Linked DNA regions of Homo sapiens. The protein of the gene in region 2 interacts with the protein of the main gene of each other region in a biochemical or structural test. Each region holds a gene or a part of one and is shown on either strand. Other genes may lie near its edges.

Region 1 (3,500 bases), on a different chromosome or scaffold from region 2:
ATCTGAGGTCAGGAGTTTGAGACCAACGTGGTCAACATGGTGAAACCCTGTCTCTACTAACAATACAAAAATTAGCCGGGCATGATGGTGGGCACCTGTAATCCCAGCTACTTGGGAGGCTGAGACAGGAGAATCCCTTAAACCCAGGAGGTGGAGGTTGCAGTGAGCTGAGATCGCGCCACTGCACTCCACCCTGGGCAACAGAGCAAGACTCCATCTGGAAAACAAAGAAACAAAAAAACAAACAAAAAACCCAAAAGCCTTTAGCTATTATTATTACCACCTGAGGTCACCCCTCCCCTCCTACATTTCCTTACTGCATTTATCTATCCAATCTTGCAACTACTTTCTATCTGATCTAATTTAGATACCTACACACTGGGAAATTCTCAGCTTGCTATATACAGATAGTACAGGGCCACTGAATAAATAAATGAACAAATTCTAAATAATCACTCTTTTAGCCTGTCCACAAGAAAACCTACATTTAATGTTTGAAGAAAGATAAAGAAAAGATTAAAGAAACAGAACTTCAAAGCAAGAACTACAGTTCTCGAAGTGAACCAGTAGCATCAGCATCACTAGAGAACTTGACAGAAATGTAGAATGCTACTTCCCACCCCAAACCTACTGAAACAGAAACTCTGAGGGTAGGATCCACTTTTAACAAGCCCTCCAGGTGATTCCCTTGCGGCTGAATCATGAGCTCAGAGTGCAAAAAGTAACATAAATGGCAGCACAGAATGAGCACTGGATCAGGAGTAGATTCTAGGCTTCACTCTGCCATTGACCTTGCACAAGTCTCTTAACTTCTCAGAGCCTCGATTTCCTTATGTGATACAGGGATGATAACACCCAAATAGTTAAATGTTGTGAGGGTTAAATGAGATTCTATGTACAGAGTTTGCATATAGTTGGTACTTAATAATTATAAGTTCCTTCCAGTTATCTTCCTGTATATCTCACAAGGTTGTGAACACTAAATAAAATGACTGAAGCAAAAGGGCTTTGCAAATTCCTGCCCTTGAACATCAGACTCCAAGTTCTTCAGCTTTGGGACTCAGACTGGCTTCCTTGCTTCTCAGCTTGCAGATGGCCTACTGTGGGACCTCATCTTGTGATTGTGTGAGTCAGTACTCCTTAATAAACTCCCCTTAATATAAACATCTACCCTATTAGTTGTGTCCCTCTAGAGAACCCTAATACACATAGCAATCTGAGGGACAACTAACTATTCTTGGTACAAATAGCCAGGTTAAACGTCTACCATTCACAGGATATTATGAAGTAGTTTATGTCCAACACCAGTCAGTCTACAAACAAACTCTGCAACAGAATATCTGCTTCTTGCCTGTTTATTAAAGCAGAACAATGAAGAGAATACATGCCCACCACCCCCAATATTCTGGTCAGAATTAACTAACTACTCACTGATCTTTGAATCTAAACTTTACTCTTGGAAAAGGATTTTCTGAAAACTTTTTCTAGCCAACACAAGGAAAACTGCAAACTGCTGCAGACACAATGGACCTGACTTGGGGAACTCCCCATGTATGTCATCCAACTCCAAGCAGTTGTGGAAGGCTGAGATTAAGACAGTTAACATTTTGAAGCTTGTTGCAGAACAGAAAATTAAGAAATACAAGTAAGTACTCTTTCTTCCACCACACTTCTTAGCCTCGCACACCATGGCTAGGCTTTCTCTCTCTTTTTTTTCTTTTTTGGAGATGCAGTCTCGCTCTGTCATTCAGGCTGGAGTGCAAATGGCACGATCTCGGCTCACTGCAACCTCCACCTCCCAGGTTCAAGGGATTCTTCCGCCTCAGCCTCCCGAGTAGCTGGGATTATACGCGCGTGCCACCATGCCCAGCTAATTTTTGTATTTTTAGTAGAGATGGGGTTTTGCCACATTAACCAGGCTGGTCTTGAACTCCTAACCTCAGGTGATCCACCCGCCACGGCCTCCCAAAGTGCTGGATTACAGGTGTGAGCCACCGCACCTGTCCAGCTTACTCTCTCCCTAAACCATGCTTTCTACTCAGGAACTGCCCTCCAGAATAAAGGGCGGGATGGATGCAAGAAATGCACAGTTAACTATGTCAGACTGTGGTCTTAGCCGCTAACTTGAGATGAACACGCTAAGTGTTCTACTAAATCGTACCAGGTTAGAATGTTCACATGAGGCCCACGCATAAGACAGAGTAAGAATTACTCCACCAACCGCTCAGACAGACCCAGGACACCTTTTGTGAGCATGTTACCTCTACCGAAGGCTCCCTAAGAGCAGCTTGTTAATATTTGTATCCCCAGAGCCTGGCACAGGCCTGGCCCCCCACAGGCACTCATAACTGCCTACTGAAGTGAACAGACAAAATTATTTAGGTGTAAGCCCCATGCAGCTGTTGAGAAGTATTATTTTATAAGCAGGGAAAATTAGGTCCAAAGAGACTAAAAGTTGAAGTCAGTTAAAGAACGTAGTCTTTGGGCCGGGCGCAATGGCTCACTCCTATAATCCTAGCACTTTGGGAGGCCAAGGAGGGTGGATCACGAGGTCAGGAGTTCAAGACCAGCCTGGCCAAGGTAGTGAAACCTTGTCTCTACTAAAAATACAAAAATTAGCCCGGCACGGTGCCAGGCACCAGTAATCCCAGCTACTTGGGAGGCTGAGACAGGAGAATCGCTTGAACTTGTGGGGCGGAGGTTGCAGTGAGCTTAGATCGTGCCACTGCACTCCAGCCTGGGTGATGAAGTGAGACTCCATCTCAAAAAAAAAAAAAAAAAGAATGTAGTCTTTGATGCCACCCATCCAGAGCAGGGCTTCCTCCTGTGCCCAAACCCTACTTGCCACCACTCCCCACAGCCACCTCTGCTCCATTCAGACTGGTACTCACAGATGTGCCTGTGCCCCACTCCCTGCCTCATTCAGCTGTCCCTAGGCCCAATGATATTGTTTTCTGCATGCAGAGTTCCTACCCATCCTTTATGAACAGCCCTCAGACTCAAAGAAGCCAGTCCCTGTCACCCCAGCCTCTTCTGAATTGTTTCTGACTCCTTCAGCACTTACAATCTACACCACTCATTGTTTCATGCATCTCTGTCTTCTCTCCTGAAACCGTAAATCCATTGAGGACAGGGATCAGAGAGGGACCAGCTCTCCTTTTTTTTTTTTTTTTGGAGACAGAGTCTCACTCTGTCGCCCAGGCTGGAGCGCGGTGGCACAATCTTGGCTCACTGCAACCTCTGCCTCCCAGGTTCAAGCGATTCTCCTGTCTCAGCCTCCTGAATAGCTGGGATTACAGGCGCCCACCACCACACCCGGCTCATTTTTGTATTACTAGTAGAGACAGGGTTTCACCATATTGGTCAGGCTGGCCTCCAACTCCTGACCTCAAGTGATCCACCACCTTGGCCTCCCAAAGTGCTGGGATTACAGGCATGAGCCACCACAACCAGCCTACAGCTGCTGTTTTTAATCATTAGCTTTGTAGTTGTTATTTTAT
Region 2 (3,500 bases):
GCATATGTACCCACTGATATGATGCACTAAGAAAGGCCTGTCACCTCTGTGGCGTTCTTGTGAAAAATACGTAACTTCCATCTAATCATGAGAAAACATCAGATAAACCCAAATTGAGGGATATTCTACAAAATAACTGGCCAGTAAACTTTGAAAGTATCTGTCAAGGTCATTAAAAACCAGGAAAGGCTGAGGAACTGTCATGGATGAGAAGACATTAAGGGGACATGGTGACTAAATGCACTGTGGGATCCTGGATTGGATCCTGGAACAGAAAAAAGACAACAGCAGAAAAACTGGTGAAATCTGAATAAAGTCTGCAGTTTAGCTATGAAGGGCACTGTTGGGCAACTGAAGAGATTTGAGTATGAACTTTATAGTACAAAACAGTATTGTGATTAATGTTAATGTGCTGACTGTATATGGAAGAATAAATGGAATTATGTATTTGGTTTTAAGAGACACATATTTAAGTGTCATGATGCTGCAAAAAACTCTCAAACGATTCAGCAAAAAAAAAAAAAAAAATTATATATGCAGAGGGAGGGAGAGGAAAAAAAGGAAGAGACAGAGGAAGGGGAGATAAGAGAAAGGGAAAGGGTGAGCCTTAACAGCAGGAGCCATTTCTGCCTCCATGGAGCCTGGTATCCTTTATACAATCTTTGTGCTCTAGGATCTCATAAGCTAGTTGGGAAACAGTCTGAACTTAAGAAGAAACAACCACAACAGTAAGGCAGTTACGGTGTGTACAAAAAGAGTAACACAGCAAAGGCTTTGCAGAAAAGGAACTAGCAAAAAGAGGATTTTATTTAGTCAAGTATGCCTGAAGGTTTGTGTTGGAAAATACTAAGTAAGAGGCAAAATATTGGGCCAATTGGTCTTTATTCTATAGTATGCTGGTCCCTCCAGATGCTACATGAAAAAACAAGGTGTAGCAAAATAACTCTGGGAAACAATGCATTCTATCCTTTGATCCTTTAGGTTCACAATGTACATTAGCTTACTGAAGGATCCTAGAAGCCTTTCAGTCAACAGACCTAGTTATCCTTGTGTAATCCAGTGTTCACCAATCTTAACTGAATACGGGATTCTTTCTTCAGGGAACTTTTCACAACCCTGCCAAACTTCCACAGAATATGCTTTAGGAATGTCAAAGAAACAGAAACCTCTAAAGGTTTCTAAATGATTTGGGGGATAATCCAAGTTGTGTTTAAGAAATAATGATAACTATTATATAATATTAAATGTTCTTACAATGTGCCAGGCATATGGTTGAAAGTTTCTACATAATCTAATTTCAAACCTAAAAGGTATTTTCATTATTTTATGGGTGAGAAAACTGAAGTTTATTTAAGAGAGGTTAAGTAACCTTCATAAAGCCATCGTGCTAGTAAAAGGGAGAACCAGAATTTGAATCCAGGTCTGTCTCTATGATCTTGATCATGTGTTCAGATTGCCTAGGCTAGTCCAACTTTAACCAGCACATTATGCAAGCATTGTGGTTGGAATGATAAATTATGAGATCACTCAATTGTGACTCCAAACCCATGTTCGTAACTGTCATGCTGTATTACCTGTCAAGAAGATTCATTAGGCCCAATCGGTAGAGGATGCATTAGAAAAAGACTGAGGGAGGAAGCCTACAGACTGCTCATGAATTTTAAGAACAGACTAGATAAGAATTAAAGTAGTGATTCTGAATTGGGGGCAGTTTTGACCACTGGAGACATTTGGCAATGCCTGGAGACATTCTTGGTTGTCATAACTGGGGGCATGATCGGGTGGGGGTGGGTTTGCTCCTGGTATCTAATGGGTAGAGGCCAGAGATGCTGCCACAGTACACACATGACAACATCCCTGGCCCTCCCCCCACCCTCCAACAAATAATTATCTAACAAATGTTAATAGTACTGAGGCTGAGAAGCCCTAAAGAGACATATACGCAGAATGGAGAAAGTCCAGTTAGTCTCCTAAATTACCTCCTTGTCACTCTATTCCACCCATGAAAGAACTTTTAACAGGTTAAACTGGAAAACAACTCAATGATCTATGTCATGGAACCCTTTTCTTTGAAAAGGCTTTTGAATCTCCACATGACAATGTTTATTAAAAATCAATCAAAATGTTTATTAAAAACATATCTTCCTTAATATCTGATAAATTTTTTAAAAAATCAGAATAACGTTGATGACTCTGCCATCCCAAAAAGCATTTTTAATTTGGTCATGTATAAGGTATCTGCTCAGAAAAATGTACAGATATGAACAGCAAGACATTAAAAAAATCTTTAAAAATTAGCAAGCTTGTCTAGCTCACCCTATTTGTTGTTGTTCTGTTTTGTTTTGTTTTGTTTTAGGCTTTAGCAGCCTGAAGCCATGGTTTTTAGTCTGTCTCTAGTGGTAAGTGGAAAAGGAGGATGAGGAAGGAGCTTTACTGGCCCAAACAGAAACTAAGAAACCATGACTATATTCTCTCCCTTGGATACCCCTGCAAAGCCTTTAAAACAATGAAACTAAAAAGTAAAACAGTTATATAAGAAACCTTGGACATCATAAAAATCAGTAAAATTCAAATAAACAAAACAAAAGCTGTAATTTCCTGGAATTATGGAATAAAAATAAAATTTGGATTTTCCAAAATTAGGTAAAGTAGCTTTATTGTATCTTAAAAACACTATCTACGAACCATCAAAAAACCCCAAACCCATAATGATATGATTATGGAATAAAGCTACTTACTAAAGCAGCAACGTACACTTTGTAGACAGGGTCAGCACAGACCATTGACAGAACGCTGCAGCATGCCTCCACCACATCTCCTGAGATACTGGTCTGGGAAGACCCACTGGTGGCTCCCCCACTCGGGCTGCTTCCACTGCTGCCCCCAGAATTTCCAGTGCTCTCCCCATTTGCCAACAGCAGGGCCCCACTGACATCATGGGAAAGACGCCTGAGGGCCATCTCTCTCACATTCCAGTTTCTAGAAAATAAGCAGCCAACGAGTTCCATTCCAAACACCTGTATCAAACACACACGATGAATTCAATGTAAAGAAAAGCTTATGGACCCAGAGCATTTTGAGTTTAGCATCATTTTTGATTACTACGTAAAAACTGGACATTTCTGAAATCTTTACCATCCTTCACAACTTCAAATATATCCAGCCACTTAAGCATCATAAGGAAGAATTTTATACTCAAGTTTAACTGATAATTATCCAAAGTCATTAATATTTATTAGCTCAGGTAAAATTAATAATAAGCTCCATTAAGTCACTAGATGGCTATACATACATTCTATGCCTCTACTGTCCCACATGCTTACCAAAACGCCAAAAAACTGTGAAAACCTCAACTCTGTATTCATATTAAGGTAGTTTAAAGAGAAAAACTGGAGCAAGATTAAGAAAACAAACAAACAAACAAAAAACAAATCAAAAAAAGCACCAGGAGAAGGTTTCAAGAGATATAGAGTATTTCTCTTACAGACAAGAGCAATAAG
Region 3 (3,500 bases), on a different chromosome or scaffold from region 2:
GGTCGCGCCACCAATATCAGCTACACAGAAGGCTGAGGCAAGAGAATTGCTTAAGCCCATGAGGCGGAGGTTGCAGGGAGCCAAGATCGCGCCCCTGCACTGCAGCCTGGGCAACAAAGCGAGTCTCCATCTCAAAAAAAAAACAAAAAAAACGGAAAAGAAAAACGAAAAGAGGACTGGCCGGGCCTGGTGTCTCACGCCTGTAATCCCAGCACTTTGGGAGGCTAAGGCAGGCGGTTCACCTGAGCTCAGGAGTTGGAGACCAGCTTGGACAATGTGACGAAACCGTATCTCTACCAAAAATACAAAAAATTAGCCCAGTGTGGTGGTGTGCACTTGTGGTCCCAGCTACTTGGGAGGCTGAGGTGTAAGGATGGGTTGAGCCTGGGAGGCAGAGGTTGCAGTGAACCAAAGTTGTGCTACTGCACTCCAGGCTGCTTGACAGAGTGAGACCCCATCTCAAAAAAAAAAAAAATGGAAAAGTGCAGGGATGTACACCCATCAGAAGTGTATTGCTCCATGAATTTTCACAAGCTGAAGGTACCTGTGTAACGATCACCCAGCATCCTAGAAGCTGCCCCTGGCTTTTGTCTATGTCACTCCCTCCCCATCACAAGGAGTAAGTAGTCACACTTTCCCATATATATATATATATATATATTTGTCATTTTAAAAAATATATAGTCATGTGGCCGGGCGTGGTGGCTCACGCCTGTAATCCCAACACTTTGGGAGGCCGAGGCGGGCGGATCACAAGGTCAGGAGATCGAGACCATCCTGGCTAACACAGTGAAACTCCGTCTCTACTAAAAGTACAAAAAATTAGCCGGGCATGGTGGCGGGCACCTGTAGTCTCAGCTACTCGGGAGGCTGAGGCAGGAGAATGGCGTGAACCTGGGAGGCGGAGCTTGCAGTGAGCCGAGATTGCACCACTGCACTCCAGCCTGGGTGACAGAGCGAGACTCCATCTCAATTAAAAAAAAAAAAAAAAAAAAAAAAAAAAAAAAAAATATATATATATATATATATATATATATATATATATATATATAGTCATATATCAATTAACAATGGGGATATATTCTGAGAAACATGTTGTTAGGCACTTTCATCATTGTGCAAACATCATGGAGTGTACTTACACAAACCGAGATTGGTAAAGCCTGCTACACACCTGGGCTGTATGGTATAGCCTATTGCTCCTAGGCTACAGACCTCTACAGCATGATGCCGTACAGAATACTGTAGGCAACTAACACAATGGTAAGTATTTGCATATTGAAACATAGTAAATATAGAAAAGGTACGGTAAAAATACGGTGTTTTGGGACCACTGTCATATATGCAGTCCATTGCTGACTGAAATGTTACGTGGCACATGACTGTTTATACATTTTCCTATTTTTGTCATTTTAAGTATTAAAAGTAACTTCTTTTCTTCTAAAAGTAATATACATACCTGGATGTGGTGGCTCATACCTGAAATCCCAGCACTTTGGGAGGCCAAGACGGGCTTATCACCTGAGGTCAGGAGTTCGAGACCAGCCTGGCCAACATGGTGAAACCCCACCTCTACTAAAAATACAAAAATCAGCTGGGCATGGTGGTAGGTGCCTGTTATCCCAGCTAGTCGGGAGGCTGAGGCAGGAGAATTGCTTGAACCTGGGAGGCGGAGGTTGCAGTGAGCCGAGATGGCACTACTGCACTCCAGCCTAGGCGATGGAGTGAGACCCTGTCTCAAAAAAAAAAAAAAAAAAGCAAAGTGTTTACAGCTTTGCATAAAGTTTCCTGAAGCATATATGCATTTTAAAATATTTAAAAAAATATTTAAAAAGCTGAGACTACAGGCACCTGCTACCACGCCCGGCTAATTTTTTTGTATTTTTAGTAGACACGGGGTTTCAGTGTCTCGATCTCCTGACCTCGTGATCCGCCCGCCTTGGCCTCCCAAAGTGCTGGGATTACAGGCATGAGCCACCGCTCCTGGCCCTAAAATATTTTTTATACTGACGTATTTAAAAAGTATTGTATTTTTTTAATACAATACTTTCCAGGTATTGTACCATGTGCATTTATAATATTTTTCTACATCATCAAAATAACTGATTACTCCTAAGAGCATTTCTTAATATCATACAATATCTGGTCCTTTTTCCAATTTACCCACTTGTTTCTACAATACCTTTTCAGCAGATTCATCTACCTTTGTAACTAATCCACTATCAGCTATTCATATTCATTTAAAAGACTTTTGACATATTTCATTTCTACCCTAGGTATAAAAAAATGTACTGCCCTAAACTTTTGCCAACTTTGGGTATTATTAATGTTTTTGCTGATTTGTTATATTATTTCTTTATGAGTATTGTTATTTTTAGAGACAGGGTTTCGCTCTGTCACCCAGGCTGGCATGCAGTGGTGCTATCATAGCTCACTGCAGCCTTGAACTCCTGGACTCAAGGAATCCCCTGCCTCAGCCTCCTGATTAGTTGAGATCACAGGCATGTGCCACTACACCCACCTGATTTTTTTTTTTAGAAGGAGTTTCGTTCTGTTGCCCAGGCTGGAGTGCAATGGCGCAATCTTGGCTCACTGCAACCTCTACCTCCCGGGTTCAAGCGATCCTCCAGCCTTAGCCTCCTGAATAGCTGAGATTACAGGCATGCACCACCATGTCCAGCTAAGTTTGTGTTTTTAGTAGAGACGGGGTTTCACCGTGTTGGTCAGGCTGGTCTCAAACTCCTGACCTCTGGTCATCCACCCGCCTCAGCCTCCCAAAGCGCTGGGATTGCAGATGTGAGCCACCATGCCCAGCGCTAGCTAATTCTTTTACTTTTATAGAGACAAGGTCTCGCTATGTTGCTGAGGCTGGTTTTGGCTTCCCGCCTCGGCCTCCCAATATACTGGTTTTACAGGGTATCCAGCCTATGTTCTTTATTTTAAACTTAACATTGTAGCCCAAGCTTTTAATTTTGATGTTGGGAATTCTCCAAAACCATCATTTAAACATGGATAGGTAATGTTCCATCACAAGGGTTCAGAGTATGTTCTTCCTGGGGTCCCCGAGTTAGCTGTTACAGCTTTTCCCGTCTAATCAGTAAATAAGCCTCCAGTGGTGGAACTCGTGGTCAAGGTTCTGCCTTCTGAGTTCATGTGTTTCTCCCTCCTCTACATCAGAATCCACCTCATTGCCTGGAGATCACGCCACCATCTTCAGAAAAGCTGGTCTCAGTGATGCGGTTAAGTGACCTCTCTACAGAAGATGATGACTCAGGTCACTGTAAAATGAACCGTTATGATAAGAAGATTGATAGTCTAATGAATGCGGTTGGTTGTCTGAAGTCTGAGGTGAGGGAGGTAGGGGGCTGGGATAGCTACTACCCTGAGGATGTGCAGGAGCACCCAGGTGGATTTCCTGCCTGGTCCCTCAGCCTGCGTCTGCAGGCCTTCAGGCCTCCTCTGCAGGGTTGCCCCGGGCTTCAGTTGCCTGCCCCGGGAGG
Region 4 (3,500 bases), on a different chromosome or scaffold from region 2:
CAACTATTACTAGAATGCTCCCACTCAATTATATAAAAAGATAAAATTATATATCTAATTATATAATTAGATAAAAAGAATCAAACCAAGCTGTTCCCCTGCTCCCAAAACATAATTCGGAATTTAACAAGAAAGCCTAGTTCTGGTTCCCAAAACTAGCTAGTCTTCAGAATTACCTGGAGAGTGATTCTGACTCTGGAAAGAAGAATGAAGATCCACCCCTAATCCCCGACCCACGATTGACTGAGCATGTTTTGGAGGGGAATGTGAGAAGTCCAGGAATGTGTGTTTTTAAGTACAGCAGGATAACTGCCAGGTGGGCAAAACACTGGCAAAAAATAATGTGGATTTCAATAGAAATCGGCAGCTGTAATTTCATTATCCAACTAAGCTGTTCTTTGTTTTTAAAGCAAAGCACAATTTATTTTTATTAACCACAATTATATTCCTATGTAGCAGAATATTTTCCTTAATGTTATGGTAATTTTCTTCCCTGTATCAATTAAATATCCCATATTTTATTCTGTGCTAATTTCTATAGTTGGATCAATTTATTCTAGAAAGAATTTTCCTATTGTTCCTGGAGTCTAAATACTCAAGAGAACTATGAATAATTTGAGACCCACAAATAATTTGAATAAAGCAACAATTAGTCTACTTTAAAAATGCTGACTTATATGTGATTAAATTAACAGGAATCAAAATTTACCCTGCTTCTAAAGTAAAAAATGATTAGGCACAACAATTGTGCTAATTCTTTTATAATAAAAACTCAAAAATTCTTACTTGACACAATCATACACAGCTCACTACAACCTCAAACTCCTGGGCTCAAGTAATCCTCCTGCCCAAGCCTCCTGAGTAACTAGGACTGCAGGTGCACACCACCAAGCCCAGCTAATTTTTACATTTTTTTTTGTAGAGGTGGGGTTTTGCTACATATAGCCCAGGTAGGTCTTGAACTCCTGGTCGCAAGTGATCTTCCCACCCAGCCAATTCTGACCTTTACTGTTCCCTGTAAGTATTACAGTGTTCATACAGGAACAAACCATTTAATAGAAGTAGCAGTAACTGGTATATTATTGTATTATCAGGACTAATCATAATGATAAAGTCAAAATAATAAAATTTATAGCTTATACATGATCTCCTCACAATAGTGGCAGGACAATTATGTTGAAAGTGATTTGAGGTCTGAATGAGATAAACTGTGCCTAAGGCAGCAGGTGTCTACATGATGAGAGAGAGCATAGTTGTCTCTGATAAGCTTTCAATAAAGAATATTTATTCTAGGGTTTATCAACCAAAAACACATTTGGTTACTAATGTATAAACAGAATACCAATGCTGTGAGCACCAACTAAGTAAGTCTAACATTAGCCTTTGGTTGGAATTGATTTAAAAAAAAAACTTTTTAATGCCCTTGGCCTCAAAATCTAACTTAACATTTTTTGTTTGTTTTTAAGGTGGATTCTTATTATGTTGCCCCAGTTGGAGTGCAATGGCTATTCACAGGCACAATTGTAGCTCCCTACAGCCTAGAACTTCTGGGCTCCAGTGATCCTCCTGCCTTAGCCTCTGGAGTAGCTGGGACAACAGACATACACCGTCATGCCTGGCCTAACTTCAGAAATTCATTTCACCTATCATCAATACCACATACAACATTTTTTTTACTTCTATATACTCTACTGCCAAAAAAAATTTTAAAAAGAAAGAAAGAAAAAGAAAACATGGAAACAAGTGACAAGAAATATAAATTTAACTTAGCAACTATTTCATTTTTGGTAGTCTGCTGTCTGACAGTTTTAGCAATCCTGTTAATTACAAGAAAGCAAAGGCATGAAGAAAAATACCTACTCTTCCCCTCAAACAAAATCGTCTGGACCACGCCCTGGGAGAAGCACTCAGGTTGTTATTCTAGTCCAAAGCAATGAGAAATAAAGAAGAATAAAGAACAAAGGAAGTATTTAAGTGTATTCAGTTGTTATTAAAGATGAAGCAGAAAGCAAATTAAACCAATAGGACATAACCAAAAAGCCAAGAGAAGAAAAAGCAGTTCAAAAACACTAGCTTTGGGCACTTTGACATCTCCCCAAACACCTGCTTATTAAAGTCCTAGGACTCCACCCTTTTATTTCTAAATAAAATCACAAAAGTCTTCCAGAGAATCTGTAGTTCTCCATCACTGTTAATTTCTGTCCCACACCAAAACTAAACTGCTCTTTAAATATCTTAGACACTTGTTCATTAATAGCCTATTCAAATCTGATAATGGGAAGAGTTCAAATGTTAACATTTTTTCAGGAAGTTTTAGTTCTCCAGTTGAATGATATACTAACCAGACTATTCAGCCAGTCTGAAGATATTATGGATATAAAATAAACTGTAAAAGTCCAGAGACCTGAGAAAGTGTTGCAACATTCCTTGATCAGATTTGAAACCCAAAACTCTGAAATAAGTATCAACCTCACCCCATTAATTGACTGACATTACCACCCCCAAGGTGCCCTATTACCTCAATCATCCTGCTGTCCACAGGCAGGGTGGTGCTGACCATGTGGACATTAGGTGTGGATGTCGACCTCTGCCTCTGGGAGAGGGAACCTTCAGATGAGGGACTGGAGGTGTTAAAGGTGAAGGCGTGAGGTGTAGAATATCTGTGCTGAGAACTAGGAGGAGAAAGAAAATTCCATGATTGGCACTTAGGCTTTCATACTGGTGAAGTCTTTCAAGTACATATTTGACTAAGTAAGATGCTTAAGGGCAAACTCTACCTGTACAACCTTTGACAAAATGTTTGATTCTTTCAAATGTGTGACATCTAAAAATTATCTTAAGTCTAGGTGCTTTTGCATACAAAATTTGGAACAGGAAATAATATATGTATTGGGAATTCAATGAAAAGGAGAGTGCATTATAAGTTTTCTTTTTTTAAATAAAGCACCACTCTACTCCAAATTTTTACAACATCTCCAGGAAAGAACAGATTAACATTTGACAACCACGCTACCACCTATTAAGCTAGTTGGAACACGCCCAGTTTAGAGACTAAATTTGAGAATTTATTTAAACAGATAAGTAGACGTGCTGAGCATGTCTGTAAAAAGGCCAGGATTTTACCCTCTGTTTGTCCTTACCTGCTACAACCAGCAAACAAAGTAAATAAATGGGAATTCAGTTTTTAGATGGAAATACCTAAATGTGAAATTAACCACTGGCCTCTTCCAGTCACCACCAACCCCCACCAACCAAACTGGGAACATGCATTAAGAGGTATAACATTTTCATTATTTGCTCTAAAGATTCGTTCGAGGTTTGTTCAGATTCAGGTAACACCCATGTATGAATTAAAGGGAAAAAGGCCAGCTTTTCTAAGGGAAATTGTTCTATTGTCTTGAAAAAAATGCCTTCCCACATAATCCTCTGTTTTATGGCTTCAGAGGCCTGGTTTCTTCTAATCTTCAGAGGTAACTACAAATTCTTGGTCAGATTTGCTT

The links. Proteins that work in one complex are often made in the same cells at the same time.
Region 1: of the proteins of MAP3K1 (region 2) and TOM1L2, one has a biochemical effect on the other in vitro, tested with the Homo sapiens proteins (one large-scale study listed by BioGRID).
Region 3: of the proteins of MAP3K1 (region 2) and ODF2, one has a biochemical effect on the other in vitro, tested with the Homo sapiens proteins (one large-scale study listed by BioGRID).
Region 4: the proteins of MAP3K1 (region 2) and RAF1 form a complex in vitro, tested with the Homo sapiens proteins (one study listed by BioGRID).

What each region holds. Positions count from the first base shown.
Region 1 is NC_000017.11:17,965,901-17,969,400, forward strand, and holds part of TOM1L2 (TOM1-like protein 2), read right to left. Parts: intron 1-3,500. UniProt on the Homo sapiens protein: Acts as a MYO6/Myosin VI adapter protein that targets myosin VI to endocytic structures. May also play a role in recruiting clathrin to endosomes. May regulate growth factor-induced mitogenic signaling.
Region 2 is NC_000005.10:56,874,549-56,878,048, reverse strand, and holds part of MAP3K1 (mitogen-activated protein kinase kinase kinase 1), read right to left. Parts: intron 3,018-3,500; coding exon 2,739-3,017; intron 1-2,738. UniProt on the Homo sapiens protein: Component of a protein kinase signal transduction cascade. Activates the ERK and JNK kinase pathways by phosphorylation of MAP2K1 and MAP2K4. May phosphorylate the MAPK8/JNK1 kinase.
Region 3 is NC_000009.12:128,466,006-128,469,505, forward strand, and holds part of ODF2 (outer dense fiber protein 2), read left to right. Parts: intron 1-2,919; exon of another isoform or gene 2,920-3,177; coding exon 3,178-3,348; intron 3,349-3,500. UniProt on the Homo sapiens protein: Seems to be a major component of sperm tail outer dense fibers (ODF).
Region 4 is NC_000003.12:12,601,618-12,605,117, forward strand, and holds part of RAF1 (RAF proto-oncogene serine/threonine-protein kinase), read right to left. Parts: intron 2,673-3,500; coding exon 2,519-2,672; intron 1,921-2,518; coding exon of another isoform or gene 1,861-1,920; intron 1-1,860. UniProt on the Homo sapiens protein: Serine/threonine-protein kinase that acts as a regulatory link between the membrane-associated Ras GTPases and the MAPK/ERK cascade, and this critical regulatory link functions as a switch determining cell fate decisions including proliferation, differentiation, apoptosis, survival and oncogenic transformation.